Regions from separate parts of the Homo sapiens genome. Here region 2 is linked to region 1. A link means that fine-mapping ties the variant in region 1 to the expression of a gene that starts in the linked region. Tissue or cell type: lymphoblastoid cells. Region 1 holds a variant in brackets; the other region holds the start of a gene. All regions are shown on one strand. Distances are from middle to middle.

Evidence for each region. PIP is the estimated chance that this variant, and not a neighbour inherited with it, causes the effect.
Region 2: it holds the start of ITGB3BP, and the variant in region 1 is fine-mapped to the expression of ITGB3BP in lymphoblastoid cells (TwinsUK, PIP 0.95).

Annotation. Positions count from the first base shown.
Region 1 is chr1:63,421,510-63,424,273 of GRCh38, forward strand. The region is part of intron 12 of ALG6 (ALG6 alpha-1,3-glucosyltransferase); the gene reads left to right. Among named protein-coding and RNA genes, the nearest start is that of ALG6, 55 kb to the left of the region's middle. The variant A/AT (reference allele first, on the strand shown) is at 1,515.
Region 2 is chr1:63,522,096-63,524,595 of GRCh38, forward strand. ITGB3BP (integrin subunit beta 3 binding protein) reads right to left here and starts at 1,130. Exons shown (of 9, transcript NM_014288.5): 1 at 1,034-1,130. The coding sequence starts at 1,038. It overlaps EFCAB7 (EF-hand calcium binding domain 7), which reads left to right and starts at 1,430. Exons shown (of 14, transcript NM_032437.4): 1 at 1,430-1,539. RefSeq lists enhancers at 529-1,152, 1,314-1,393.

The DNA of each region.
Region 1 (2,764 bases):
ATCCCATTACTGGGTATATACTCAAAGGATTATAAATCATTCTACTATAAAGACACATGCACATGTATGTTTATTGCAGCACTATTCATGATAGCAAAGACTTGGAACAAACCCAGATGCCCATCAATGATAGATTGGATTAAGAAAATGTGGCACATACACACCATGGAATATTATGCGGCCAAAAAGAAGGATGAGTTCATGTCCTTTGCAGGGACACAGATGCAGCTGGAAACCATCATTCTCAGCAAACTAACACAGCAACAGAAAACCAAACACCACGTGTTCTCACTCATAAGTGGGAGTTGAACAATCAGAACACATGGAAACGGAAGGGAACATCACACACTGGCCTGTTGGGGGGTGGGGGCTAGGGGAGGGATAGCATTAGGGAGAAATACGTAATGTAGATGACAGGTTGATGGGTGCAGCAAACCACCATGGCACGTGTATACCTATGTAACAAACCTGCATGTTCTGCACATGTATCCCAGAACTTAAAGTATATATATATACATATATGTATATATATAATTTATATATAAATATCTATTTATATAAATATCTATATAAATAAATATATAAATATATAAATATAAATATATATAAATATATAAATAAATATATAAATATATATAAATATAAATATATATATAACTATGAATTTATATTTATATAAATATATATCTATATGAATATAAATATATATTTATATAAATATAAATATATATATAAATATATATATTTATATAGATATAAATATATATATAAATATATATATTTATATAGATATAAATATATATCTATATATGAATATATATCTATAGGAATATAAATATATATCTATATAAATATAAATATATATAAGTATAAATATATATAAATATATATCTATATAAATATAAATATATATATAAATATAAATATATATATAAATATATATATAAATATAAATATATATATAAATATATATATATAAAAGAAGGTGTATTAAGGAAATGAGGTGGTAAGTTGCATCAGATGCTGCTTATAGGTCAAATAAGATGAGGGCTGGGAATATATTATTTGCCTTAGCAATATGGAAGTCACTGGTGACTTTGGTGGGGCCAGTGTTGGTGGAGCAATGCACGGAGAAGCCTGATTAGGTAGGGTTAAGAAAAAATGGGCCGGGCACAGTGGCTCATGCCTGTAATCCCAGCACTTTGGGAGGCCCAGGCGGGTGGATCATCTGAGGTTGGGAGTTCAAGACCAGCCTGACCAATATGGAGAAACCCTGTCTCTACTAAAATTACAAAATTAGCTGGGTGTGGTGATGCATGCCTGTAATCCCAGCTACTCGGGAGGGTGAGGCAGGAGAATTGCTTGAACCCAGGAGGTGGAGGTTGCGGTGAGCCAAGATTGCACCATTGCATTCCAGCATGGGCAACGAGAGCAAAACTCCGTCTCAAAAAACAAAGGAAACAAAAATAGAAAAAATGAGAGGAGAAGAACTAAAGACAAGTAGGGATAATGCA[A/AT]TTTTTTTTTTTTTTTTTGAGGCAGGGTCTTACTCTGTCACCCATGCTAGAGTGCAGTGGCGTGATCTTTGCTCACTGCAGCCTCTGCCTCCCGGGTTCAAGCGATTCTCCCACATCAGCCTCCCCAGTAGCTGGGACTACAGACGCACACCACCACGCCCAGCTAATTTTTGTATTTTTGGAAGAGAAAGGGTTTCACCATGTTGGCCAGGCTGGTCTCGAATTCCTGACCTCAACTGATTCCCCTGCCTTGGCCTCCCAAAGTGCTGGGATTACAGGCATGAGCCACTGCGCCTGGCTGATAATTCATTTTTTAAAAGAAATATTTAAAATTATATTTTTAAAATTGTGTTAAAGTACACATAGCATAAATGTTACATTGTCAATTAGTACATTCACACTGTTGTGCAAGCATCACCACTATCTACCTCCAGAACATCTTCATCACCGCAAAAGGAAATCCCATACCCAAAGCAGTCCCTCTCCATTTTCCCTTCCCCGAGTCCCTCTAACCACTAATCTGCTTTCTGCAAATCTCTGTGGATTTGTCTATTCTGGATATTTTATATAAATGGAATCATATTATATGTGGTCTTTTGTGTCTAGCTTCTTAATATTTTCAAGGTTCATCCATGTTGTATCAGAACTGTATTCTTTTTTATGCCTGAATAGTATTGCATTGTATCGATACACTACATTTTGTTCATCATTCCTCAGTTGATGGACATTGGGTTGTTACCATGTTTTGGCTGTTGTGAATAGTGCCACTGTGAATATTCATGTACAAGTTTTTGTTTGAGTCTATACTCAGGAGTAGAATTGCTGAGTCACATGGCAATTCTGTATTTAACTTATTGAGGAACCACCAGACTTTTCCATAGTGGCTGCACCACTTAACATTCCCACTAATAATATATGAAGGCTTCAATTTCTCCATATCCTTGATAGCACTTGTTATTTTCCATCATTTTGATTATAGCCATGCTAGTGGATATGAGTGGTATCTCATCGTGATTCTGATTTGCATATCCCTAATTACTAATGATATTGAACATCTCTTTATGTGCTTGTTGGCACAATATGTCTATCTTCTTCAGAGACAAGCCTATTTAAATCCTTTGCCTATTTTTTTTTTGAGACGGAGTCTCGCTCTGTCACCCAGGCTGGAATGCAATGGCACGGTCTCAGCTCACTGCAACCTCCGCCTCCCGGGTTCAAGTGATTCTCCTGCCTCAGCCTCCCGAGTAGCT
Region 2 (2,500 bases), 100 kb after region 1:
TTGAACACCCTATTAGGTGATGGGTTTCTTTATCTGTAAAGATAATAGCAGCCCCCATCCCCTAAAGTATTTTAGGATTCAATGAAAAAACGTAGATAAATTGATTAATACAGCACCCACATTGTAATTCAAGATTCAATAAATATAGGTTATCATTTCTGTACAGCTTTCCCCTTTCATGTCAATTCCTATTTGATACAAAAATTTCCCCAGCTGTGTTACTTTGCATTTTACTTAATCCTGAAATAAACTAAGGAACAGGTTACACTAGAGGGGGTACCTAAATCAACCTGAGGACAAGGACGGCCAAGGAGAAATTACAGGTGTTTGATATCCACCCCACTCCCCCAACCTTTAATGGCTTTTTTAAGTTTCTATAGGGTAGCAACTATTTTATGCATCTCAATATAGGATGGATGAAGGATATGAAAAACAGATGAATCTTATCTAGCACAATGCCTATTCCCACTATGGTCATTCTCAATAATCAGATTATTGGTCATAGATGGGAATTTAGAGATCATGCAGTACAAACTTATTTGTGTAAGTAAAAAAAAACGAAGCTCAGGGTCGATAAGTGACTTGCCCAACAGTGAAAGAGTCTTATCTGGAATCCAGGTATCTAGACCCACTCAGTCCATGAGTTCTCCCACGGGTTTACACGAACGCGCCACATTAATGAAGGCAAGGGACTGACAAACTACGAAGGCGTGTTTTCATCTACTCTGTCCCATCCTGTGTGTCAACCTTATTTATGTTATTTCAAGTTAGACATCACCTAAATACAGCCCACAGTTTACGAAATCTGTCAAAAGCATCGTAGAAACAGAAAGCGAAGGAGGACTATCGTATGAGTACCGCTGGAGGAGACGTAGAGTTGAGGGTACCAAGCGAAGGGAATTGCCTGTGGACAGAGGAGACAAGTTCATACTCCGAAAAAATAGGAAAACGAGAAAGGCTACTGGGCCACATAATATCTTCTCTTCTTGCAGAGGGCCCCCAAAACAGCAATACCTGGGGAGGAGATACCTACGGCATTCTGAGATTCGGGAAAGCACCACTGCCGCTGAATAAAACGAACCCAGCAACTTCCGAAAACAGAAAATCCGCCAAAGGAAACGCCAAGGCATGAAAAGCGCGCGCTGGACGTTGCGTCAAGCCCACCGCGGCCGGGCGGAAACATCCTCCCCGCGACGAAGGATCCGGGTGTGCGCGAGCAAAGGAGCGAGCGGGGAGTTCTAGGCCCAGGACAGCACCTATTTCCTGCTGGTGTAACAGAGCACCTTCTCTCACTACTCTGGCCATACCACCCCCGCGATAGAGGAGCAACACAGCTGTCTCTGTGCGCTCCGGATCAGCGCTTCCTAGATTTCTAGCCGGATCGTTTGGAGAAGGGCTCTGCATCTTATTTCCGGTGGCGGTGAGGTGCAGTTGCCATGGTGATTAGAGAAAGGCCGAGATCTGTCCAGCTGCGGTGAGAGGAACGCTGAATCGCCGAAGAGAATTGGCTGCGCTTCCTTGTTTGTGAGCTAGAATTAGGTAGCAAACAGCTCGCTGTCTCTGTCTCTTCGCTCCCTCTGTCCCTCTCTGTGCAGCTGCTTCTCCTTCCTCTGCTTTGTCTACTTCTCTGTCATAAACATTTGGTCCATGTATGTACCTAAAATGTACATGTAAATGCGGTTTTATTTCCAGAGGAATACAAAAATAGAGAGATGGTGCCCGAGATTACCTGTGACGGTATTTCACTGTGTAGGGACGGTGACTGGACGGCTTTCTGTTTTCACTTGGCCCTGTAGAAGCCTTAGGCGCTTGTTAACAGTTTATTTTTCTTGCTATTGTGTGGCTGGTTATTTATGGAGCCGTTTGCTGCAATGTACTCTCTAGGCCCCTGTCTCAGTCTCGGGCCGGAGTTTTAAGTAAGGGAGGTTTCCAAGCCTGCGGGGGGTGCAATTATATGTTTATTTAAGCTTTAGTTTGGTTTCTCGTCACAGAAAGGAAAAGAATAAAATTCTGGCACATTTCTGCCTTGGGATTTCCATGTGAGGGAGTTGCCTTGTTTGGAAAGAATATTTGAGGACGATCCTAAAATATACTTATATTTTAAAATTGCTTATTGCAAAGTGAAATTCATTCTCCCTTACTTCTTGAAACAGTTTTCTTTCACATTTGTGAGGAGATGCATGCACACATATGTGTTTAGAACTCTGATGCTTAATTATAGTATTACCAATTTGCAGTAACCAGACTGTGACACCACATCCCTGTGGGGTCCTTCTAAATCTGGTGTAATATGAAAGTGTCAGGCAGGCGGCCTGCGTATTATAAATAGGGTACTTCATCCATGATAAGCAATTATTATCTTTCTTTCCCAAGTGTAAATGATCTATATAATTCGAAAAGGTGCAAGTGATTTAGGCCTCCTGAGTAGGAATGCAATGAGTCCTGAAGGGGACCCTACCTGTGTTATCTTATTATTGAACTTGAAATATTCAATTTATTA